Linked DNA regions of Homo sapiens. The protein of the gene in region 1 interacts with the protein of each later gene in a pairwise test. Each region holds a gene or a part of one and is shown on either strand. Other genes may lie near its edges.

Region 1 (3,500 bases):
ACTGCCTGGTAAACCATGAGAAGGAGATTGAGTGACTTGTACAATGCTGTTTCAAAAGAAGGGGGGAAAACTCTACTAATTTTAATAAGGCCTTAGGATAATTACATACATTTCATACACAAATTTACAGAAGAATAAATCTATTTTTATGTAGTTTTATACCTTTGGTTATACTAATCAAGCCTTGGTGATATTTTATACTTTTGGTTATATTAAATGATAACATTAACCAGGCATGGTTTTAGCACAAACCATAACTATTGTGCTAATTAGGTAACAGTACATGGGTTGATGAGTGAACTGGAAAATACTCCACCTGCCCAAAGAAGGGAATTCCCTGTCGAAAGTGTGAGTCCACTTTCACAAATGAGAGTTTGGTTATGGTTCTTGTGATTTCACTGGACTGCCTTCCAGTCAATTCCACCACTGAAAAAAGAGAAAAAAATCTGTTATTTTTGGGAAGAATGATGTCTCTAAAATTCTATCACCTCCCCCCAACTTACAATTCATTATTTGGCTAAGAAAATCAATGCCTGTTGTGTTTTCTCTTATACCCATGTAGTACACAAACCTGTTCCTTCTTCTTGGATCTGGGCCTCAGTGTGAAGTTTCATTTCATACTCCTTCCTCTTCAGCTGGAAGACCTTGGTTTTTACTTGCTGATAGAAGCAGCCATGGCTGTTTAGCTAAGAAGGGAGAAAATAAAATACAAAAATATAATGCATATTATACTAAATAGATCAGTGGTCAGATAACCGGTGTGATTTTTGTGGGGGGACAACATCATGTAGGCATTTTCTATGACGAGGACACAATAAATATTCTCTAGCAACTAAATATTAAATTTCACAACAATATCTCATGTATAATTGACAGATGTATTCCTTGGTATCTGAAATTCCCTAGATATATTGCGATAGAAATGTCTTAAAATTTGAGGAGTAATTTTTTTTGTACAAAGGATGCATAATATTTATACATATTTATGGGGTACACGAGATATTTTGTTACATGCAGAGAATGTGTAATGATCACATCGCGGGATTTAGGGTGCCTACCAACTCAAGTATGTATCATTTCTATGTGTTGGAAATAGTTCAAGTCCTGTCCACTTGCTATTTTGAAATACACAGTACATCTGCTCTTGACCATTAGAACTCCTCATCAAAGTCTGGTTCCTCCTCCATAATATTCAGCTGTGGCTGGGAAGCGGCCTTCTATATGGGGACTGTGTTTGTCAACTCTCTGGCATCTTGGTGGGGCCATGTGATAGGTTCTTGTTCACAGAGAGAGCAGAACTGATGGCCTGGCCAGCTAAGGCAATTAAGAGGTGTATGGTTTTTTCCTTCCTTTGTAGAAGTGAATGCCCATGGAGGCTTTAGATGGCTCAGTGTCTATCGTTCTGAAACACTCACAATGGGCAATTACGAGAAATAAATAATTCCCATTGTGCTAAGTTCATGATTTTTTTTGAAAAATTACAATAGCCAACATGGAATTCTCTTCTAGATTGTTCTCTTCCTGCGTCAGAAAAATGCTGCAACTCACTGCTTTTCAACAATGCCTTTATCGCTATTCTCTAGAAAAAATAGTGTTCAACCTACCTGTCCACTGAATTTCTCACAGAAAGCCTGTGAATCTTCACCGTGGCAGTCGGAAGCGTCACTATACTTTCTGCAAATGCTCACAGTCACATGTCCAGGGACAGGCTTCCCATATGTGTATCTGTCATGAGAACATTCCCAAAGGAATCAGAGCAGACACTGAACCTCCCCATTTTCTAGCTATTTATATCTCCCCTTTAGCTACAGTATATTCCCTGTCTGTACTTCCCTCTGCTCTCTGCTGGGCTCACACAATATTGAAGACAAGAGTCACTAATGGCTCTTATAGAAATCTCCATTGCAACATGCTGAAATTTACATTCTTCTTTTATCATTTCTTTTTTTTCCTCGTTTTTTTTTAGTTTTATCTTAAAAAAGTCTTTCTTATTATAAAACTTAAACCCGTTCTTAAAAGAGAAACAATACCAGCAAGACGAAACAAACAAAACAAAACAGAACAAAAAAAACCCAAACGCCCTCAAGTCTACCTAGGAATACAAACTATTAGTACGATAGTGTCTCTTCTTCCATCATCCTCTCCCCATGTGCAGCCATCTCTATATCGAGTTTCACTTGTTTATTTTATTTTATTTTATTTTATTTTATTTTATTTTATTTTTGAGATGGAGTCTCGCTCTGTCGCCCAGGCTGGAGTGCAGTGGTGCGATCTTGGCTCACTGCAACCTCCACCTCCTGGGTTCATGCCATTCTCCTGCCTCAGCTTCCCAAGTAGCTGGGACTACAGGCGCTGGCCACCATGCCTGGCTAATTTTTTGTATTTTTTAGTAGAGACGGGGTTTCACCATGTTAGCCAGGATGGTCTTGATCTCCTGACCTCGTGATCTGCCCACCTCAGCCTCCCAAAGTGCTGGGATTACAGGCGTGAGCCACCACGCCGGGCCTGTTTACTTTTTTACAAAAGTGGGATTGTGTCGTAAATATGTCATAGACAATTGCTGGGTTTCCAAGTGCATTTGTCTCCTTTCCTATTTGAGAATGTCCTCTGTATGTCTATTTGCAAGATCACACCAGTTATGAGGAACCAGGAACTTGGCCATCACTGTGAGACAGAACTGGAGCAGGGGCCTAGCTGAATAGTAGGTGTATTACATGTGTGATCTTTGGACAGGACTATACCTGCTCTTCCTGCTACTGCTACTGTGTGCCACCATGGATGGGAACATAAGATCCAGGAAACAAGACTTTTCAAGGTTGGAACAGACTGTCTTGAGAAATCACGTTCAGTCTCTTCGTAAAAATGTCAGTGCAGACAGGTATGTAGACCCGCCTTAGGTGGACTAGTGAGTTAGATGAGATTTCAGTTGTATGCCTATCTCTACAAATTCTGAATCTAAGTGATTTTTCCAGTAAGCATGCAAGGTCAGGTAAATGATCTGTTGATGATTGAATTTCCCCTATAGCCATGTGTTAATTATCTCCCTAATATACGTTTGGTTATTTTTGGTTAAGGCAGAACCAATACCCTTCAACACTATCCACCCTTCCCATTTTGTGTGTGTGTGTGTGTGCAGTTTTGTCACTTTCAGAATCAATCCTATTAGCATAACCTCTCTAGAAACAGTTTCTTACCTCATGATAGAATAATACTGATAAGAACGTGAAAGAAAATAAAAATAGAAAAGCAACAGGAGAATAACATTCTACAGATGAGGATGCTGTCAAAGCACTTAAAATTTTTGTGTTGCCACTGCTCCCGGAGAGAGTAGTTAAAATATCCCAAATGGTGAGTCTCTTTTAAATAATCCCCCACAAAAGATTTTTAAAAAATGAACTCACAGGCCACACACTGATACATTCATCTCTTCTTCCAAGATGGTGATTATCTTTGGCACTGTTACTTGTACTTCAAACTTGGGAAGAACTGTTGATTGGTGA
Region 2 (4,013 bases), on another chromosome or scaffold:
AGGGCGTGGGGCACAGGGGCCAAGGCCTCTACAGGGCAGGTGTTTTGCCTGATGCCAGAGTGGGCCTGTTCAGCCAGTGACCAGCCAACCCCCAGGCCTCCCCAGGAAGGGTGGTGCCCTTCTCTGGGATAAGAGTTCCCTGGGCTGGTCACTTGGACTTCCAGGTGAACTTGAGAGCCATTCTCTGGGGTGGGAGCCCTGGAGCATCCCGGGAAGCCCGTCCAGGTGTGCAGAATTCCGCACCTATGCCCGGCTCTCACCTCCCCTCTGCTCTGACAGTGTTGGCCCTTGGATAGTGCCCAACGCCTGGGAGGCCCCCGCCCCCTCTCCACCTCCCCGTTTCCTCCCTCCCCTGCCTCATGGGAAGGCAGGCACCACTGGCATTTGCTCATGGTTAAAAACAAACTAGAACACTGGACAAGTAGAAGCATATTTTTAATAATAATTATTACGGTAAAACATCTTGAATAAATATGGAATATGAACTTAAATAAATAAATAAATAAATATTTTAAAAATATAAATATATAAATATTACTGATTTCTGTCAGTATAAAATATTCCCATTCTTCTGCCATGCCTGTATCAGGGTCAGTGTGGCCCAGGGCAGGTCCAGGCCACTCCCACCATGGCTGTGGCCCACCCCTTGGTCCCTCCAAGATGACCATCCTGAGTTTCTAGCTCTTGTTTCATGAGAGAGCAGCTCCCCGGCTTGGCCAGCCTCATCTGGCCGGTCTCACTCCTGGACTGGCTCCCAGCAGTCAAAGGGGATGACAAGCAGAAAGTCCTTCAGGTTCTCTTTGAAACTTTCAAAGGTGATAATCTGGGTTGCACAGGAAGTTTCCTTTAAAAAAAGAAAAATAAAAAACACTTGAGTCCAGGCAAGTGGGTAACGTGGGGGAAGGAAGCACCAGCATGTTTCTCTACTGCCTCTTAGAACTCAGAGGCCAGGAGGCCCACTCCAGGACACACCCACTGACCTGGGTCAGGTGACGCTGCTGCCACCCACGTGTTCCCCAAGGAGTGCATAGCTCTGCCAGTGGCAGCCAGAGTCAAGGGCCTGACTTAAGTGCCAGCCTGAGGTTGGCCTTCTGGGCAGTCAAACGCCTGCCTTTTTGGTCCCAGGGCAGAGCAGGGCAGCTGGGCTGAGGTCGTCTCTGGGCACCCAGAAGGAGTGGAGTCAAGGCCACAAACTTTGCTCCCTTCCCGCAGGAAGGAGTGCCTGAGGTCCTTGTCCATTCCAAGTAGCCTCCCTTCCTTGATCCTCTGCAATTCAAGCACCCCATGTGGGGCCAGAGGAAAGTCCTGCCAGAAGGTGGCACTTGGGCCTGGGCACTTCCTCTGGGCCTTGGGCAGGCCCCAAGTTTCCTTGGGTTTGCCCTCACCTCTGACCTCATTAACCATAATGACAATAATGACCAGGATAGGAGCAGCTCCTGCTGGGGAGCACTGTGGGCTTCAGCGCTCTGTGGCTCTGACTCCTTGGGATGAAATGGGCTGTCTGCCTCCTCTCTGGAGGGCTAATCATTACATAACTGTTGGCACAGAAACCCCCTGGGGTCCTGAACAGCCACAGCCATAGATCTCTCCCCATGTCGACCCCACCCCCTAGATTAAGACATTCCTGCTGGAGGCCCTGCCGTAGGCACTCACCGGGGTTGGAGGGCAGTGCTGCTTGTAGTGGCTGGCCATCATGGTCAAGGGGCCCTTGAGCTTGGTGAGGCTGCCCCGCAGGCCCTGCTTGTACAGCTCCAGGCGGGTCTGTAGGCAGGTCGGCTCCTGTGGAAAATGTCGTTCGTCGGTGAGCAGTGGCCAAGTGCCCACAGTGGTACAAGAACTCTCCACCACTCCTTTTTGCTGCTGCCCCCAGCCCCCAGGAGTAGGGCTTGGGAGGGGCACAGGCTGGGTCCAGTCATAGACCCTGCCCTGTCCATGGCAGGCACGAACCTGCCCTTCTCACTGCCCCGCCCAGGCCACCCTCAGCGGCACCTGGAGAGGAGCCCAGCCTTAGGGAAGGAGGTGACTCTCACCCCATCATTCAGGGAGAGGGGGGTGGGGCCTCACCTGGACCTGCTGGGTGGGCAAGGGTTGTTCCTGAAACCCCTCTGTGCCTCTCTGTAGTCAGCACTGTCTCAACAGGACTTGGTCTCGGGGCACAGTGAGCGCCCCAAACCCACAGCTCCTGTCTCATGAAGTGACCCCCACTTTACCACCTGTCCCCTGGTGACTCCTGGCCATTGAATGCTAGGTCTGCCCATGGCCGCTCAGCTGATAAAGGAGCTCATGTGACTGCCATAGGGGCACGGCCAGCAGCCTCTTGAGCACCCAGTTGCTACCCCCTCCTCCTGCAGCCAGCTGACTGGAGAGAAAGTGGACAACCCTGTGTGGTGCCATCTAAAATGGAGTCCCCACCTCCACCCCAGGGCAGGGGCTTCTGGAAAGCTATGTCAGAGAGAAGCATCTTACCTGGAGGTCAAACATTTCTGAGATGACTTCTACTGTTTCATTCTGTAGAAAAGGAAAATGTCATGTTATCAAGCTGACAGGCGTGGCCAGTCAGGGGCCAGCTGGGTGGCCTAGGCACAGGCCCACATTCTCTCACTTACCATCTCAGCAGCAGTGTCTCTACTCAGGTTCAGGAGACGCCGGGCCTCCTGGATGGCATTCACATGCTCCCAGGGCTGCGTGCTGGGGCTGGGCGAGCGGGCGGGTGCAGAGATGCTGCAGGCCACAGTGCCCAAGAGCAGCAGGCTCTGCAGCCACATCCTCCAGAGAACTTTAGCCTTTCTCTCTGTGTACTGGGCTCACTGGCAAAAGAGCTCTTAAATACACAGAGGAAATGATTAATGGTGACCACAAAATGCCAGGGAGGCGGGGGAACTACCTGAACTGTGGAATCTCCTGGCCCTTATCAGCCACACATGGGAACGGTGAGCCTTTTCCCTAGGTGGTCAGGCTTGGGGGTTTTCATTAATGAACCTTTCCAAGAACCGACAGCCCACCCACCCGCCTTCCTGAGGGCTCTCCAGCCCTCCCTGGGCAGTCTGAATGGGCCTGAGGCTGCCCCCTCCCTCTGAGGGGCACAGTTTGGACTTCCTGGCCTGGAATGGCTGGGGTGGGGCGTGGGAGACACTTAGATAGGGCTCCCCATCCTGCCTGTAATCCCAGGGGCCTTTGGGCAGGCTATGCCCGCCCTGGTGCCTCATTCTGACTCCAGCCTTCCTCTTCTCTGGCCACTGTGAGAGACTTGAGTGTGAGGGGAGCTCTCACAGACCTGCCCCACTGACAGTTCACATGGGCTCCCACCCAGGACCTGGAGCAGGGGGCAACCTCAGTCCAGTAAGGGGGGACCCCTGCCCCTGTGAGCAGAGGGAATGACCACCATGTGCACATCCAGCAGCGAGACTGCAGCCACTCTCAGCAAGCTTCAGAGGGGGTGTGGCTGGGTCAAGTCGGGACCCAGAGTCTGACTCTTGGCTCTGGAGCCACCTTCCTGAGTGACTCCCCTCTCTGGTTATGTGAACCTTGATTCCCTCTGCAGAGCAGGTTTGCCCCTCTGAGGTTCGGACTACACTCCTATATGTAGCCCCCAGAAGACACCAGGAGCTTCAGGCTGGCTCCAGGGCTGTGGCTGCATCCATCTCAGGTACAGGGACAATGGCTTCCCCAGCAAGGCCCTCCAGGCTTAATTTCCTACATAACCCCAGCATCCCCCAACTCCAGAGGCCTTTCTGTGGAAGTGTGGAAGTAGGAAATCTAAAGGCTCTTGAGGGGCTGACAAGTGTTTGATTTTCACAATGGAGTTCAGAGAAGACAGCACGAGTTTGTGTTTGCACAAGGTATCTGGCTCAAGCTGCCCCATGCCTGGGTTTCATAGCTAAAGGGGTGTGGGCCCACACGTGCCCATTTCTGGGTGTATGTGTGCTGCTGTGATTGGTTGTACATACAGGTGCCTGGTAGAGGGGAGGATGTTTTCCATGCAGATGCATCTATTGAGTCCTCTTACCTGCTTT
Region 3 (3,500 bases), on another chromosome or scaffold:
GGCCACCGAGGAGCTTGCCTCATTTGCTGTGCTACGTTTGTACTTAGATTGTCTCTTTAGTCTCCATGGAAGGGAGGTGTTCTTACCCTGACTTTGTAGGTGAGAAACTGATTCTCAGGGTTAGTTCTGTGACCTGTGTGATACTGGAACAAGGATTTGAGGTGGTGCCTGGCTATCTGTGAGCCAGGCCTGACTACTCTGTTATACTGCTTTTCTTGCAATTCCAAGCATGCCAGGAAACTCAATCCCATTGAACACCAGGAGAATATGGCATTGAGTCCTGAAGAGCTATATGCTAACAAAGTTATTTGTCACCACTCGTGAGTTTTGTTGTTTAAGAAGAGGGAAGGAGTAGATTCACCCACTGCCTGCGTGAGGAGCATGGTTGTTTGTTGTGAAATGGGTCACTGTCTGTTATAGCTGATGAGATCATTATGACTTTCAGACATGTCAAGGATAAGAACATCATAGAACTGGTTCATCAGGTTTCCATGGGCATGAAGTACTTGGAGGAGAGCAATTTTGTGCACAGAGATCTGGCTGCAAGAAATGTGTTGCTAGTTACCCAACATTACGCCAAGATCAGTGATTTCGGACTTTCCAAAGCACTGCGTGCTGATGAAAACTACTACAAGGTAAGTACAACTTAGCTAATATTCAGAGCAGCAGGTGGTAAAAAATGCAAGATAAATGTACGTTTTCTTTATTTTATTATTGGTATGGTTTCAAAAAGCAGTTTTGCTACTGAAAAATAACTATGTAAGATATGTTCTTATAATCTTTGATTTTACTGTTTAAAAAATAAAAATAATATCACACCTTGAGATTTACTCAAAGTAGTATATTCTAAATTATGTTTCATGGAATGATCAGGAATCGAGGTATTAAGTGAAGATTTGTTTTGAAAAAAGAAGAATGGGATTCCTTCATTAAGTTAATTTGAAAAGTTTGCATTGGACAGCTTGATTCTTGCAGGATTTCCCCGAAGCCCTTTTCATGCTACTTAACATTACGAATCTCAGTAGAGGGTTTACTGCACTGCATTTCTCAAACCAGATTCATCCATGGCATCCTTTTCTGATAGGACATTTCATAACATGTGGTGGAACACTGTCCCACAGCATGGAGCTATTGGAGCTTGGAGCTCCAGTACTGCAGTTCAGAGCTCCAATATTGCAGCTTGGAGCTATTCCAAAATAACTTTCTAATGAACACCTACCTATACATGCAAAAGTTAGAAAGTGAAGATTTACCAAATAAACTCGTCATCTGTGTATGTCCACTACATATGTAGAAATTGTTCTATTGGCTTAACTGGTATCCAGAAGAGTTGAAGTGTCAAAAAATAGATGCAGTGCTGGAAAGAAGAGATCTAGATAGTTATGTGACTGAAGCTAAAAGAAATATGCCCCTTGGTTTGGTGAGGCAGAGATTATCAAGAATTAAGGGTGGACTTCCAGCAAAACATAAAGTAGAAACTAGTTCTGGGTGCAGGTTTGGACTTCCTAAAAAATAATTTCACAGTGACCAATCCCCTTGCTAATATAACTTGACCCCTCTCTGAACCCTCAAATGAACCAATAACAACTAAAAGAAGAAAAGATAAGAAAGCTCTATCTTCATATTAACTCATCTGTGGTGTATACCTAGGGTCTATGTTAACCAACTGGAAAACGTGATGGCACCAATCCCACTGAGTCAAAGAGGGTGCCGAAGGCAGGTTAACAACCCTGCTAGTCTCTGGTGAAGTCCACATGCTCAGAAATAGATGGCAGACCTTCAAAATCTACCTAGTGGGTGGCAGATAGGATCCTGTGTTTCATGCCCTGCAGTGGTCAGAGACCCCACCCTGAGTGACAATACCCACCCACTCACCTTTCCCTAAGAGGCAGTCCATGGACTGGTAGGTGATGGGGAATGGTGGACCTCGGCCAGCAAAGGGACTGCATGAAGGGTAAGCCACAAGAGCCAAGCTCCCAGGCAGGCAGGCAGACTCCACCATCTTGAGCACAAAGGCCAGGCGAGAGTACAGCAGGGGTCAGGCTGGCCCTCCTCACCCCATTCTTCATACAGTAGCTTCCCAGAAGGAAGCCCCTTCAGAGGTGAACCACTGTGAGAAAGGCATCAGCATGGGCCTGGATAGAAATAGCAGGGAAACAGAGCAAGGAAGACAGCAGCCTAGGATGACCAGCATGGGACATGCTGGAGAAAGAAGCCTGTTGTAATGCTGGATGTACCTCATCATGATCATTACAGAAAAGAAGACAGCCTGTCTGAAACAAGGACACAGAGGAGATAGAGAAAATGAAACATGAATGCTGGGCACCTTATCCACTGCTGTATAACAAATCACCCCAAACTTACTGCCAAAAACACCACCAGGTGTTGGTTTCCCTGCCGTCCTGCTGTGTGGGCAGGGCCAGGTAGGCAGGGTTCAGTGCGTCTGCTCACACAGGGGATTGCACAGTGGCCCGAGGGACAGGAGGACCGTTTCCACTCTGCTCACTCACACTACTCAGCCACTGAGCAGCTGGTTAGACACAGCCCATGCTGGAGACCTCTGCGGGGCTGTCAGCCAGCTCACCTGCACATGGCCTCTCCTTGGGGCCCTTGGGCTTCCCTTGGGCCCATGCTTCCCTTGGGCAGCATGGCAGCTGCGGGCTGAGAGCAGTTACCCAAGAGGCAGGAAGTGGGGGCTGCCAGGCCTATAAAACCAGGCCCAGAAACTACCTCAGGGTCACTTCCACCTGATCCTATTGGTCAGAGCAGCCAAGGCCACCAGCTTCAAAGGATGGGATAGATAGAACCACCCTTTTGAGGAGAAGTGTCAAAGAGTCAAAGAACATGGGGCCAATTCTAAAACTGCTGTAGATATTAAACAGCATACCATTAAAAAGTAAACTAAACTAAAAAGTAAACCAAAGATTGTCTTTGGACAATCAATGAAGAAAAAAAGCCACTAGGGAAATAAAAGCCATCTTGGAAGCAGCAAAAAGAGACAAAACTACCGAAAAGATAGGGTAGTGGAAGATTTCTGTATGAAAACAAAGCAAAGTGAAATGGAAAAGAATAAAAAGTGGGCCGGGCGTGGTGGCTCACGCCTGTAATCCCAGCACTTTGGGAGGCTGAGGTGGGTGGATTACCTGAGGTCAGGAGTTCGAGACCAGCCTGGCCAACATGGTGAAATCCCGTCTCTACTAAAAACACAAAAATTAGCCAGGCATGGTGGCAGGCACCTGTAATCCCAGCTACTCTGGTGGCTGAGGCAGGAGAATTGCTTGAGCCCGGGAGGTGGAGGTTGCAGTGAGCTGAGATCGTGCCACTGCACTCTAGCCTGGCCAACAGAGCAAGACTCTGTCTCAAAAAAAAAAAGGAATAAAAAGTGAAACAAGATCAAAGAAAAGTGCTAGCTGTGGAAGCAAACGAACGCTGGCACTCGGGAAACCATGCGTGACAGGGTAGATTTGTGCAGCATCACAACTGAAAAACACAGGTGTTCT
Region 4 (3,500 bases), on another chromosome or scaffold:
ATAAACAATAATAATAATGATGAGTCTATGAATTCTATAAAAACTCTATTTAGAATTTTATTTCTATAAAGATTTTTATTTAGAACTTTATTTGATGTTCTTGAAATGCCATGTGTGTTATTTTATCTTGCTCAGTCCTTTGGTATCTACAGGAACACAAAAACTTAGTGTCCTTCTTAGGTATGTTTATTTAAATTATTGGTTTTCTTCTGAAGCACTGAAGATCTAAACAATCTTCTAAAATGTTCTACGCTATGAACATCAAGCACAAAAGAAACTGTAAAGACCCAGTGTACATAAAAAGAGTATGTTCAGAAACCTCCTCCTTCTTCAGAGAAGCCCCTGGGATTCATATAGCTGATTTAGCAAAACAAGATAAAATTTTGGCTGTTGCCACATTTCATAAATCAGTCAAAATCATATGCTAAGAAGTAATCCTGATATCAAACTCATATCTATTTACCAGCACAAAGTCATAAATTCTTAGGTCATGGTACTAGAAGAAATTCAGTCATACCAACTAGCCTCCTTTTGGCCAAACTGTACCCCTTCCCTATCCCAGACTGTAAAAACTTAATTAGGGCCACAGAAGAAGTCCCACAGATTAAACGTAGATTAGGAGCCTCAAGAACCAATAGTTACTACCCACTGATACCTGGGCAGAGAGTGTCCTGCATTTCCCTCCATACCATGTACTGGATAGGACCTTTGTACTGGCCCAGGTTCAGCTTTCTGGAAATAAGCTCTCTGGTTGCCAGCACCTTCATTCCTTGCTCCAAGCTGCAGGGCACATAAATCATTTATCCTTAGACATCCTCCAGAGACTCAAGGAATGATATTAATAGTACCATAGGGAAACACTTACCTATGTAAGAGAGTTGTGATGTCCTAGAAGAAAGGAGAAAGAGAGACATCAGATGCCCGTTCATCAACTCTCAAAATTTCTTTGGTGATACCAGCCACCACCAGAATTTGTGCAGATGGTCCCGAACTCATCTCTACCAACTTCTTTCATCCTTCATACACTTTTTCTAATCTTCATCCCTGATCCTAACCCAGGTTAAATTGATCTTTTGCTCTTTCTAGAGTTCTCTTCTACAGGGAGCAAGACAGAAGCCAATAAGACAATACTTAAGGTTAAGCTATCTTTACCTATACTTTCAAATAGTCTCAGAAGAAAAACACATTAGGTATCCCAGTCCCAAGGCCACTTTTCCTTACTCTAGCTAATTAAACTTCTGAGTGCTGAGATGGTAACCAACGCTTCTTTAGAGGTGAAGCTTAAGAAAGCAAAGGTTAGAAAACAGCTTTTCAGACAGGTCAGCTTATGATTGCTGAGAGCCAAAGATACAACTCAGGCTGCAACATTTTTATTTTTGAGAAATAAAGCATCAAGCTCTTTATGGAAAAATATTAAACCATTACTATATACTATTATTAATGGAATTTAAAAATCGTATTTCCTAAGAGGATGAAAGTAAAGCTTTCTGCTGTGCGTATAGCTGAAGCAGCCTCCTCCTTTTCTTCCAGAGAATCTTAAAAGCACTATAACAGTTTTGTTTTGTTTTGTTTTGTTTTCCCTGGATGTGAAAAGCCACTTCCGCATTCTTTCCAAACCTCTTCCCCCCTCTAGGTAGGAAGGTACCCATAATCATATTGGTGTGGATTCTCACTTTGAGAAAGTCGAAGGAGTTCTGTTGTTCCGTCTTTGCCTGAATGCTCACCAACATATCCTTGGCTAAGAGACATTGCTCCTGAAGCTGGCTCAGATTCAACTCCATCTCCTCATTCAAGGCTTTCCCCTCTTCCCGGAGCTCAGTTAAAATGTCCTTTTCTTTGCTGTGCAGGAACTGATGCAGCTTTAGAAACTCCATGGACACATGTTGCTGCAGATGTAGCTTGTTTTCCTGGAAACCTCCATGATTATCACCATGGTTATTGCAGAGACTAGTGCTTGGGGATGGGGGCCCACACCACCAACACTCACACACTTGGTAAATACCATCACAGAAAAATGCATACAAATGGCTACTGAATATCAAATTCAGTCATACTAAAATGAGTCCTTTGGGAGACTTACTCCTTTTCCAACTAATTTAATAGTTCAGGATGAAATAGGCAAAAGTGACCTCCAGTTTCCTATTGCAGTACTGAGATGGTAACCAATGCCATATTAAATAAGACTGTGGAGTTAGTCAAACATTCTAGAATGAAAGATAATACCCTCCTAGATTGGTAATCCAAAAGCTGCCAAGTGGTACTGTTAGACTGGGGGTATTGGGAGGCTGGAAGAACTGTCCTTACCTAGAAATCAGAACTGGGGGAATGCCACTGTTACACTTGCAGCTTTTTCCTTGGGTTACCTCAACATCCTCACAGTTAAACTATTTGACATCCTGGCTTCTCAGTTCCTCATTCTCCTCATTTCTAGTGATTTCCACATTTATTGATTCATTCCTATAGTCTCACCTAGGATTTTATCACCCCCAGCAATTGTATCATCTCCAAAATAACTTTTTATGCACCAGGCTCACTCAGATACTCCTATTGCAACAATTATTGGATCTCATTGAAACCTCCTATTCACCGATCCCTCCATTTCTATTCAGGAACTTCTACCTTCATGTCCTCTCTTATCTAGCTTGGATCCCATGGTCCATAATTATTATTGCACCTTAAGATAGTCTTGGCTGGGCACAGTGGCTCATACCTGTAATTCCAACACTTATAGAGGCCAAGCTGGGAGGATTGCTTGGAACAGGAGTTCAAGACTGGGCAACATAGTGAGACCCAGTCTCTCCAAAAATAAAATAATTAGCCATGTGTGGCAAACTAGTCCCAGATACTCAGGAGGCTGAGGTGGGAAGATCTCTTGAGCCCAAGAGTATGAGGTTACAGTGAGCCCATATCCACCTCATCAATATCATCTTGCTTAGCATGTTCCAGCTTTATTGGCCTTTTCTCTGTTTAACATAGCAGCTAACTTTCCATCTCAGGACTTTTCCAGATACTCTTTTCTATTCCTAGAACATTCTTCTCCAGGCTACCTCCTTCATATCCCCACTCACCCAGTTCACTTGGATAAGTTACTTATCCTTCAATTCTCAATTTTTAATGTGACTTCTTCAGAGAACACCCCTCCCCCAGTCTAGATTATGTTCTCCATTTATATGCTATCATCATACCCTATACTTTCAGTTATAGTACTTATCACAGTTGTTATTTTATTATTACTCATGGGATTATTTAATTAACAGCTGTCTCCCATCCCCAATATCTAGTATTATGCCTGACCCACTCAATAAATATTTGTTAAATGAATGAATGAATGCTCACACTAATAGGAACTTTTACAAAAGGAACAAGATTTTCTGAAGACATCATTACTTCCATATATCCTTCTTCTTTCCCTGAGTCTGCATATTTTTTTCTTCCAGATGCCAAATACCTGAGAAGGCTCTTCTCCATAGAATAATGAATAAAGAAACAGAACTTCCAAT
Region 5 (4,114 bases), on another chromosome or scaffold:
ACCTCCTCAAAGGAGGTACTTTGAGCAGAGACCTACGTGAATGGCATAGAGTAGAGCTGGCTATATGACCCCTGGGGAAGCGTTTTCACCAAGAGGAAACAGCAAATGGAAAGGCCATAAGATGGCAGTGTTCTTGGTGTATTTGAGGAAGAAAAAGAAGGCCCACATGACAGAATTCAGGGGAAAGTAAAGGAGGTCAGAGATCTACCTCCAGGGACTAGATCACAAAAGACCTTGAGAGTCATGGTAAAAACTTTGCAATGTAACTACTGGAGGAGGAGAAAACAAAACTTTGTGCTCTTAACTACAAGAAAAAAAAATTGATTTAAAAAAAAAAAAAAAAAAAGGACTAGGAGAAAACATGCCAAAACTGTTAATAGCAGTTTCTCTCTAGGTAGTAAGATTACAGATTTTGTTTTCTGGTACGTCCTAATTTTTCTGAATTTTCCCTATTTCTAAAAATGAATATGTATTACTTTGATACACACACAGAGAATAATGTAATTTTCATAATCCAAAGATCTGAAATTAAAAATATGAATTTGCCGGGCATGGTGGCTCACACTTGTGATCCCAGCATGTTGGGAGGCTGAGGCAGGTGGATTACCTGAGGTCAGGAGTTTGAGACCAGCCTGGCCGACATGGCGAAACACCGTCTCTACTAAAAATACAAAAAAATTAGCCGGGCGTGTGGTGTGCACACTTGTAATCCCAGCTACTCGGGAGGCTGAGGCAGGAGAATCACTTGAACCTGGGAGGCAGAGGTTGCAGTGAGCCAAGATTGTGCCACTGACTCCAGCCTGGGCAACAGAGTGAGACTCGGTCTCAAAAAAAAATGAGTTGATGAAACTTTTCCAGGATTTCAGCATTTTATCTGCTGCCAAATTGTCAGAAGCCAAAATCTCAAATACATCTTAGTCTACAATTAGACTAACTCAGGTTCTTGGGAAGTAGGAGGATTTCCAATGTGCAACATCACCTAGGATTTGGTAGACATAAGATGGACTCAAAAAGCTTCCCAGGTGATGAACATGGATATCTGGGTTAAAAACCACTGTTGAAGATTCATCATCAGATATACCAATGCCTGAGAACTTGAAATACAGTCTGCCATAACAACTAAACTACCAAGTAAGGCTATGAGAATCACATCTAATTCATCTTTGAATCCCCAATGCCTGGCACACTGTTTATACGTAATACGGACTCAACAAACCTTTGTTGGAGAAATGATCCCCAAACTCAAATTTCCTGCTAATTTGGGTAAGGCAATCTTAGAAACACTCTAAGACAACCTGGAAGATGGGAGATCAATATGATACATTTACAGAGCTTTAAGAACCACCTGCATACCGGCTGTGGTGGCTCATGCCTGTAATCCCAGTACTTTGGGAGGCAAAGGTGGGAGGATTGCTTGAACCCAGGAGTTCAAGGCTGGTCTGTGCAACACTGGAGACCCCATCTCTACAAAAAATACAAGAACTAGCCAGGTGTGGTGGCACACACCTGTAGTCCCAAATACTTAGGAAGATGGGTGGGAGGATCACTGGAGCCCAGAAGTTCAAGGTTGCAGTGAGCAATGATCCGCCACTGCACTCCAGCCTAGGTGACAAAGCGACACCGTCTCAAAAAAAAAAAACAAACTCTGCAGTTACCAACAATAGCCAGAGCACTACATTACCATGAATCAAGTCAAATGTTAAGTCTCACATTAATCTAGTCAGTAAGTAAAAGAAGAATCCCTGTCTGTATTACCAAGTAGTGACAAAATTGACATATATGGTAGCTTTATTCTATTTAAATAAGGTACGCATAGAAAATTCCAAATTTCGCCACCACCACCACTTAACTCAATCATTCATCAAATTCACTTCCAGCTCTGAGGAGCTACTGGTATTTCATCTGACCTGTGGTAAAGTCCACAAAACACATCCTCCTCTGGTCCTCTCAGCTAACTCACCTGGGTACTTAAGTTTTCAAGAACAAGAGAGTCCAAAGCTATGGTGGAGAACACACAGGTTTTCCCGGTGCCAGATTTAGCTTGAACAATTAAATCTGCGAAGGAAAAAAACAATTATCACTAGCCAGTACTCACTGAAGCAACTTAGGGGCTAACATGGAATCAGAGAACTAGAAGGGTCTCCTGAGATTCCCCTAGTTGGCACCTTCATTTTTAGTTGATTCTCAAAAACGTATGAGAACACGCCTAGTCCCTGAACGTTTACCGTTTATCTTCTCAAACTTAGAACCATTTGTCAGTGCTTAAAAAAAGGTCTTAACTATCCTCAAGTTCAATAGTGCACGTTAGTTTTACAAATAAGTTAACTGAGCGTAGCGCCTAGCCCCCGGCAGGGCCCTGCTCCGGGGGCCGACCGAGGGCTCTTCCTGAGCTGCGGCGCGGGCCTGGCCGCCGCCGCCCGTCGGTCCCCCTTCTCCCACCCCACCCCCCGACCTATCCCGGGCCCCCGCTCTCACCGAGCCCGCAGCGCCCCAACGGGATGGCCTTGAGCTGCACCGGCGAGGGCCTCTCGAAGCCGGCCGCCCGCAGCCCCTCCAGCACCGGCCGCGAAAGCAGCAGTGACTCGAAGTCGGCCGGCTCCGCCAACAGCACATCCCCCGTGCGGGTCCGCGGGCTGCTGAGATCCTGAGCGGTCCGCAGGATCCTCACAGGCCCGGGTGTTGGCTCTGGGGCCGGGACCTGCACGGCCACATGCTCAGCCGGCATAGCAGTCGCCACTGCTGCTAAGGCTCCCGAGGCTTCAAATGCCGCCGCCATGGTAGCCGCGCCGTCAGATCTCGCGGTGCTTAAGGGGAGGCGGGGATCTTGGGAGCGAGAAGAAGAAAAACTTTATTGGCAGTTTTCCCGCGAAGACACTAACACGCCCGGCCTGGAAGTGGAAGAAAGGGACGGGAGTCGGAGGCTGAGAGACTGCCCAGACACACAAAAAATGTGGCCTGAGGAAAGCCCCAAGAGGGAGGAGAGGAAAGATGAGGCAACTGGTGAGTCGCTGCCTGTGGCCTGCAGAGGGCGCCGCGGGCCTGCGGTGGGGGCACCGCCCCGCCTCTCGGCCCTCTTCTGGGCGGAGCCGCCCAGCCGTGCCCCCGGCGCCACCGCCCTCTCGCCGTTCTTTGTGATGCGCCCGGTGCGTCACGCCCCCGTCTCGTGCTTCCGTTTTCCGTTCCGCTGGCCTGTCTCGCTTCGCGGCCACCTCTTCCCCAACGCTACCCGCTCCGTACCCTGACTCGCTGCTCCTCTGTGCTGGCAGAGAGCGCGCAGAACGTAGCTGGACCCAAGGGTTTATTTACCACATTGGCTGGTGTGTCCATCTGCTGTGCAACCACATTTATCTCCGGTGAGATAAACCCCATTTATCTCCTAGCAAGTCCCTGGCGCACAGTGAGCTCTGATAAAAGTACGTTGAATTGGAACCTGGAACTGGACTAACAGCTCCCAAGTTCGTATCTCCGCCTCAGATCTCCTTTTAAACTCTAGACGTGTGCATCCATCTGCCTCCATGCATCCGCCTCCATGCATCCGCCTCCGCATCCGCCTCCATGCATCCGCCTCCGCAGCACCTCCCTTGGGATGCCTAATAGACTCTCAAATGTTACATGCCTTCTGTATTGCTCCTTCCCCCATCATTTCATGCGTAGGCAGCTAGCAGTCTCTGCCACTTTTCCTTGCTGTGGTCTTCTGCTCAAATATCAGCTTTTCAAAGAGGTCTTGAACACCCTAAGACAGCTCTGTCATCCTCTCTGCTCCCTGGCCTTTCCCAGCACTCTCTTGTTTTGCTTTATTTTTTCTTTATGATACTTATACCTACCTGAAATTATATGTCTTCTGCCTGTCTCCCACACTCTATGAGGACAAGAACCTATTCTGTCTTGTTCTCCTCTGCATCCCTAGTGGGAAAAACAATCTGACACATAGGAAATGTTCAATATTTATCAAATGATTGAGCTCCTATAACAAACTCTTAGTCATCATGCCAAATTTAAATATTTCTGGACCTCAGCCATATTCATAATTCCAAATTTAGTTGTGTGGGGTGGCTCGCACCTGTGATTCCAGCTTCTTGGGAGGCTGAGGCGGGAGGATTGCTTGAGGCCAGGA
Region 6 (3,500 bases), on another chromosome or scaffold:
GTATTCCTGTACAAGCAAAGTTTGGCTTCTGTTGTTCACATATCCTCACTAAGGCATCATTAATGTTATCGAGTTCCTGATTTCCCTAGGATCAGAATGTGGCTTTAAATGCTTTTTAAAAACTGGGGTAAAAGAAAGAAAACATTATTATGTTCCTGCTATACGGGCAATCACATGGTTTAACACAAAAACATGGAAATAGCAAGTACTGTATACTACAAGCAGATGAAAAGTGACACAGAGACCGGGCGCATTGGCTCATGCCCGTAATCACAAAACTTTTGGGAGACTGAGGTGGGCGGATCATTTGAGGTCAGGAGTTTGAGATCAGCCTGGCCAACATGGTGAAACCCCATCTCTACTAAAAATCCAAAAAAAAAAAAATTAGCTGGGCGTGTTGGTGCACGCCAGTAATCCCAGCTACTTGGGAGGCTGAGGCAGGAGAATTGCTTGAACCCAGGAGGCAGAGGTTGCAGTGAGCTGAGATCGTGCCACTGCACTCCAGCCTGGGCGACAGAGCAAGACCCTGTCTCAAGAAAAAAAAAAAAAAAGTGATCACAGAGCTATTGTGACTGGCTATCACATGACTGACAATGACGATGGGCAACCCCTTCTTTCTGAGCACTAAGCTAAAATGACTTATGCTGGGGTTTAGCTTAACATGTCCAATCAAATCAATTGCAGGCTCTGAAATCTCCAACTTATAAAATCTCACCTTTCAGTTTCATTTTGTTGTACTCACCTTCCAGCCACTGAGCACATGTTCAATGGGAGCAATGGCTGGCTCCTCTTTCTCCAGGGGAAAAACCAGCTGCTCTGCCTGCCGGTTCTTCAGGACGACAGGGTCCCATTTGGAGAGGACTTGTGCGGTTTTATTGAATGCTACTTCTCTGTGGATCTGAAGCAGGCAAGGCATGTAAACGGAAAGAGCCACAAGATTAAAGCATCAAACCCAAAGGACTAACAAGAAATTAGGAAGCAACATTTCTTAGCCCAAGAAAGAATCAGGATGCTAGAATCAGGATGAAAGAATCAGGATGCTAGTCCTCTTGCTTCTCAGGACTGCAATTTCTCCTAGATTATTATTATTATTTAGATGGAGTTTCACTCGTGTTGCCCAGGCTGGAGAGCAATGGTGCAATCTCAGCTCACTGCAACCTCCACGTCCTGGTTCAAGGGATTCTCCTGCCTCAGCCTCCCAAGTAGCTGGGATTACACCACACCCGGCTAATTTTGTATTTTTAGTAGAGACGGGGTTTCACCATGTTGGACAGGCTGGTCTCGAACTCCTGACCTCAGGTGATCCGCCTACCTCAGCCTCCCAAAGTGCTGGGATTACAGACGTGAGCCACCGCGCCTGGCACTCCTAGATTATTTTTAATCTTATCCATAGTGGGGAAATCACAACTCCCCCTTCTCCCATTTTTCAGGTCTTTCCCTTCTTTCTATTACCCTATTTTCCCTTGTCAATTCAATTTCTTTCCCTTAATAGACCACCTTCTCTGTAGCTTACCCGTTCAATCTCTTCTTTGTTCAGAGGTAACTCCACTGTCTTCTTTGATTTGACTCTACTCAGTTGCTTTTTCACAGTGGCCAAAGAAGATGAAGTTTTAACAGGCTCAAGCAGATCTGCAAGGACCAGCTTTTCTCCTGATCCTGTGGAAAGGTCAAACTTTCTGGTCAGACCAAGAAGTGAGACAAGATCTCAATATAATGTAGGGAGAAGCCTCAGTAGAAAATGCCAGTAGATGGCAAATGTGCAGAGAAGCAAGAATAATTCTCTTACTTCAATTGCCTATTTCTAGCCATGCCAACACTATCACTCTTCTACATTCATCCCCAAACGTGTTAGGGGGTAGAAGATAGGGGAAAATATTTATTCAAAACTCATTTGCTTTTCTCCTGGTGCTTCTACTCTTGCCCCATTGCAATTCATTCTTCACATAACAGCCAAAAATAAAAACAGCCAAAGTGATCTTTTTGCTGTTGTTGTTGTTTGTTTTGAGACAGGGTCTCACTCTGTCACTTAGGCTGGAGAGCAGTGGTGCCATCTCTGCCTCCCAGGCTCAGGCAATCCTCCCAAGTAGCTGGCACTATAGGCGCGTGCCACCACGCGTGGTTAATTTTTTTAATTTTTTTTTTGTAGAGATGGGGTTTTGCCATGTTGCCCAGGCCAGCCTCAAATGGCTGGGCTGAAGCAGTCCGCCCACCTCGGCCTCCCAAAGTGCTGGAGATTACAGGTGTAAACCACTGTATCCAGCCCAAAATTATCTTTCGAAAATATAAACCACAGCATGTCATGACCCTGCTGAAAATCCTCCAGTGACTCCCCATTATACTTTGAATCTCATCTACCTAAAGGACATGGTCCTATGAGATCTAATCCCCATCTGCCTCTCTAACCTCATATCAACCCCCACCCTCTAGAATGCTTTTGTCACAGGGGCCTCTTTCCTATTCTTCAACATGTTGTGCATGTTTCTACCTTAGAGCCTTTGTGCTAGCTGTTCCTTGGCCTGAAATGCTTTCCCCAATCTTTGCATGGTTGACTTGACTTGTCATTCAGATCTCGGCTTCAATTTTGCCTCTTCAGGGGCCTTTCATGACCAACCGATCTAAAGTAGCCACTTAGTTGCTTTACTGCATCATCCTCTCTTATTGTCTCCCTTCATTAGAATGTAAACCCCATGAGCTCACATCTTATTCGCTACTTTAACCTTGGTATCTACAACAGTTCCTGATACTGCTACCTAGTAGAAACACAATAAATATCCACTGAATAAGTACGCTTGGAATACATTGTTATTTGCCCTAGGAGGCTACACCAGTGATTACTACAAATGCAAGACCCATTCTAGCTGCCTAAGTTGTGAACAGGGTGAAAAAGATTTGGCATCTAGACTCAGTATTAGGATAAAATCCCATGGCTGCCGCTTATTAGAGCATGTATTCTGAACAGGGGCAATTTTACCACCCCGCCACCCCAGGGTGAAAATTGGTTCTTTCTGGGAGAGTATGAAAAAAATCTTAGATATTACAATGTTTTGTGTCCCTCCAAGGCTCAACTCTGTCCAACAAACTCTTATTCCTTAGGACTTGATTTCCTGGGGAAGGGGCACAGGGGGAGGGATACAATGAGGAAAAAAATGTCTTGAGGCCGCGCACGGTGGCTCACGCCTGTAATCCCAGCACTTTGAGAGGCTGCGGCGGGTGGATCACGAGGTCAGGAGATCCAGACCATCCTGGCTAACACGGTGAAACCCCGTCTCTACTAAAAATACAAAAAACTAGCCAGGCGCGGTGGCGGGCACCTGTAGTCCCAGATACTCGGGAGGCTGAGGAAGGAGAATGGCGTGAACCTGGGAGGCGGAGTTTGCAGTGAGCCAAGATCGCACCACTGCACTCCAGCCTGGGCGATAGAGTGAGACTCTGTCTCAAAAAAAAAAAAAAAAAAAAAGGCTTGAAAGGCTCCTCTCAGGGGAGCAATAAAAAAGCAAAGG
Region 7 (2,366 bases), on another chromosome or scaffold:
TTTGGGTCATCAGCTTACAAACAGCATTTAATGCCATGAGACTAAAAAATGATGATGGATAAAAATGAGACTCAGTCTAAAATCTTCCAATATTTACAGGTGGGGGAGATAAGGAGTAGCCAGGAAAAAGAAAATAGTGATAAAGGAAGAGCCAAAAAGGTAAGAGAAAAAAAACAGGAGAAATACTTTTCTTCAAAGTGTCTCAAGAAATGATTGTGTTAAGTGCTGATGGGTTAAAATCATCAAGTCCTATTGCTTCTAGTTTCAAAAATATATCCTGATGGTTCCCATTTACTCCATCTCTATCATTAAAGTCTCTTCTGTGAACTACTCCCACCCCCTCCCCAGGAAACTATTCTCTATATAGAAAGCAACAACATCTTTTAAAAATATAAATCAGGGCCAGGCATGGTGGCTTATGCCTGTAATCTTAGCACTCTGGGAGGACAAGGCGAACAGATGGCTTGAGCCCAGGAGTTCAAGACCGGCCTGGACAACATAGGGACACCCCTGTATCAGTTTAAAATTTTTTTAAATTACATATCAAAATGAAAAAATATATACAAATCATGTCAATATCCTATTTATCTTTTAACTGTCTTCTACTGCACCTAGAATAAAATCTAAACTCCTTCCTTTGGCCCACAAGTCCTTTATGATGTGGTCCATGCCTACCTTTCTACTTCATTCTTCCCATGTTACTCCTCTCATTCCTTTCTATCTACATTCACTTTGTTCTTATGCAATAACTCTGTTCCTAAAACATATCAGTCTCATTCACTGCCTTGGCAACCCAACTCCTAGACCTACAATACACTCCCTCGGCTCTTCATCTGCCTGGCTTCTCAACATTCAGTCTCACATCTCAAATATCTGCTTAGAGACCCTGCCTGATTATTGTATCAAAACCTAAAATTATCCCGTTTATCTTTTAAATTGTATATTGTCCTTCTCACCCTAAATTATAAATTCCTCAAGGACAGAAAATGTTAAATATATATTACAGCATTTAAAACTTATATACATATAAGACTTCAATGACTATTTCACAAAATACCAGTCCTTTAAAACCAAAGGAATATTACCAGGACATTGGTTTAACCTTTTACCCAAAACAGGCATCATTTCTGTAACATGCCTGCCTGGAGTCATCATTCCAGAACATCTTGAAAATGTCCAGTGATGGCAAACTCAGCACCTCATGAAGCAGCTCATTTCATCTTGGGAAAGCAATATTTGTTTGAAAAGTCTTCTTTATATTGAATCAAACCTCTTTCCATGTAATTTCCACCCACTGCCCTTTGGAGTTATGCCAAGTAAGTCTAATCTCACTTGCATACACAGACCTTTGTTTAGAAGACAGCTGTATACACACCCTACATCTTCTCTTTTACAGGACAAATATTACCATTTATTTCAATGAGTCTCCATTTGGTATGGTTTTCCAATCTCATCCTTTCCATGCTAGTCTGGTAATTCCTAACTTAAGAACTTCCATCTCAAAATATGCTCAGAAGTTTATTGAGTTCCCCTTACCCTTGCAATTTGCTCTGAATAGCATAGAGTTGGCAGAGTTTAGTCTATCCATACATCAGACTATTATTTATAAAAGCATAGTGACTATTCTGATGGTTCTGACAGAAAGCTTAATTAGGCTGGGAGCGGTGGCTCACACCTGTAATCCCAGCACTTTGGGAGGCCAAGGTGGGCGGATCACGAGGTCAGGAGTTTGAGACCAGCCTGGCCAATATGGTGAAACCCTGTCTCTACCAAAAATACAAAAATTAGCCGGGCATGGTGGCAGGCACCTGTAATCCCAGCTACTCAGGAGGCTGAGGCAGGAGAATCACTTAAACCCGGGAGGCAGAAGTTGCAGTGAGCTGAGGTCGCACCACTGCATGCCAGCCGGGGCATCAGAGCAAGACTCCATCTCCAAAAAAAAAAAAAAGAAAGCTTAATTAATTAAAATCTCCAATACTTTCATAGACACTATTGTGAACCCAAGGGTCTTCTACTCTGTAGATACGAAAATATTTTTCTTATAGCTAGATGAAATATTTTAAATCTATTCCTGTTAAATATATTTTTGTTATTTTTAGTATAAAGTTCCACACTATTTTAATATTTGAATCCCTACCCTGTACTTCAACATACTAAAGATTCCTCCAAATTTTACACCATCTACACATTTGTTAAGTATGCCTCCTATGACAACATCCAGATTAATAGAAATATTTCCATAAACATATCAAACACTGAGTCCTACAGCATAACAGCATCACATTCAGAGACCTTTTTTTTCTGGTTGATATTAATATTATATGTGGTCCAATGAGCTATCTGTACTCCCTAACAGCCTCTTCTTA

The links.
Region 2: the proteins of A2M (region 1) and CSF2 interact in binary tests that used the Homo sapiens proteins (3 or more experiments, as listed by UniProt).
Region 3: the proteins of A2M (region 1) and SYK interact in binary tests that used the Homo sapiens proteins (3 or more experiments, as listed by UniProt).
Region 4: the proteins of A2M (region 1) and TRIM69 interact in binary tests that used the Homo sapiens proteins (3 or more experiments, as listed by UniProt).
Region 5: the proteins of A2M (region 1) and DDX20 interact in binary tests that used the Homo sapiens proteins (3 or more experiments, as listed by UniProt).
Region 6: the proteins of A2M (region 1) and UTP14A interact in binary tests that used the Homo sapiens proteins (3 or more experiments, as listed by UniProt).
Region 7: the proteins of A2M (region 1) and STX19 interact in binary tests that used the Homo sapiens proteins (3 or more experiments, as listed by UniProt).

The regions. Positions count from the first base shown.
Region 1 is NC_000012.12:9,105,920-9,109,419, forward strand, and holds part of A2M (alpha-2-macroglobulin isoform a precursor), read right to left. Parts: intron 3,487-3,500; coding exon 3,402-3,486; intron 1,726-3,401; coding exon 1,605-1,725; intron 687-1,604; coding exon 572-686; intron 427-571; coding exon 317-426; intron 1-316. UniProt on the Homo sapiens protein: Is able to inhibit all four classes of proteinases by a unique 'trapping' mechanism. This protein has a peptide stretch, called the 'bait region' which contains specific cleavage sites for different proteinases.
Region 2 is NC_000005.10:132,072,576-132,076,588, reverse strand, and holds CSF2 (granulocyte-macrophage colony-stimulating factor precursor), read right to left. Parts: upstream 2,801-4,013; 5' UTR 2,766-2,800; coding exon 2,607-2,765; intron 2,509-2,606; coding exon 2,467-2,508; intron 1,780-2,466; coding exon 1,654-1,779; intron 845-1,653; coding exon 737-844; 3' UTR 419-736; downstream 1-418. UniProt on the Homo sapiens protein: Cytokine that stimulates the growth and differentiation of hematopoietic precursor cells from various lineages, including granulocytes, macrophages, eosinophils and erythrocytes.
Region 3 is NC_000009.12:90,878,319-90,881,818, forward strand, and holds part of SYK (tyrosine-protein kinase SYK), read left to right. Parts: intron 1-445; coding exon 446-635; intron 636-3,500. UniProt on the Homo sapiens protein: Non-receptor tyrosine kinase which mediates signal transduction downstream of a variety of transmembrane receptors including classical immunoreceptors like the B-cell receptor (BCR).
Region 4 is NC_000015.10:44,757,028-44,760,527, reverse strand, and holds part of TRIM69 (E3 ubiquitin-protein ligase TRIM69), read right to left. Parts: intron 1,916-3,500; exon of another isoform or gene 1,908-1,915; coding exon 1,674-1,907; intron 889-1,673; coding exon 866-888; intron 781-865; coding exon 656-780; intron 1-655.
Region 5 is NC_000001.11:111,754,587-111,758,700, reverse strand, and holds the start of DDX20 (probable ATP-dependent RNA helicase DDX20), read right to left. Parts: upstream 2,801-4,114; 5' UTR 2,777-2,800; coding exon 2,476-2,776; intron 2,056-2,475; coding exon 1,961-2,055; intron 1-1,960.
Region 6 is NC_000023.11:129,909,164-129,912,663, reverse strand, and holds part of UTP14A (U3 small nucleolar RNA-associated protein 14 homolog A), read right to left. Parts: intron 1,657-3,500; coding exon 1,514-1,656; intron 899-1,513; coding exon 743-898; intron 86-742; exon of another isoform or gene 1-85. UniProt on the Homo sapiens protein: May be required for ribosome biogenesis.
Region 7 is NC_000003.12:94,016,232-94,018,597, reverse strand, and holds part of STX19 (syntaxin-19), read left to right. Parts: intron 1-99; exon of another isoform or gene 100-159; intron 160-2,366. UniProt on the Homo sapiens protein: Plays a role in endosomal trafficking of the epidermal growth factor receptor (EGFR).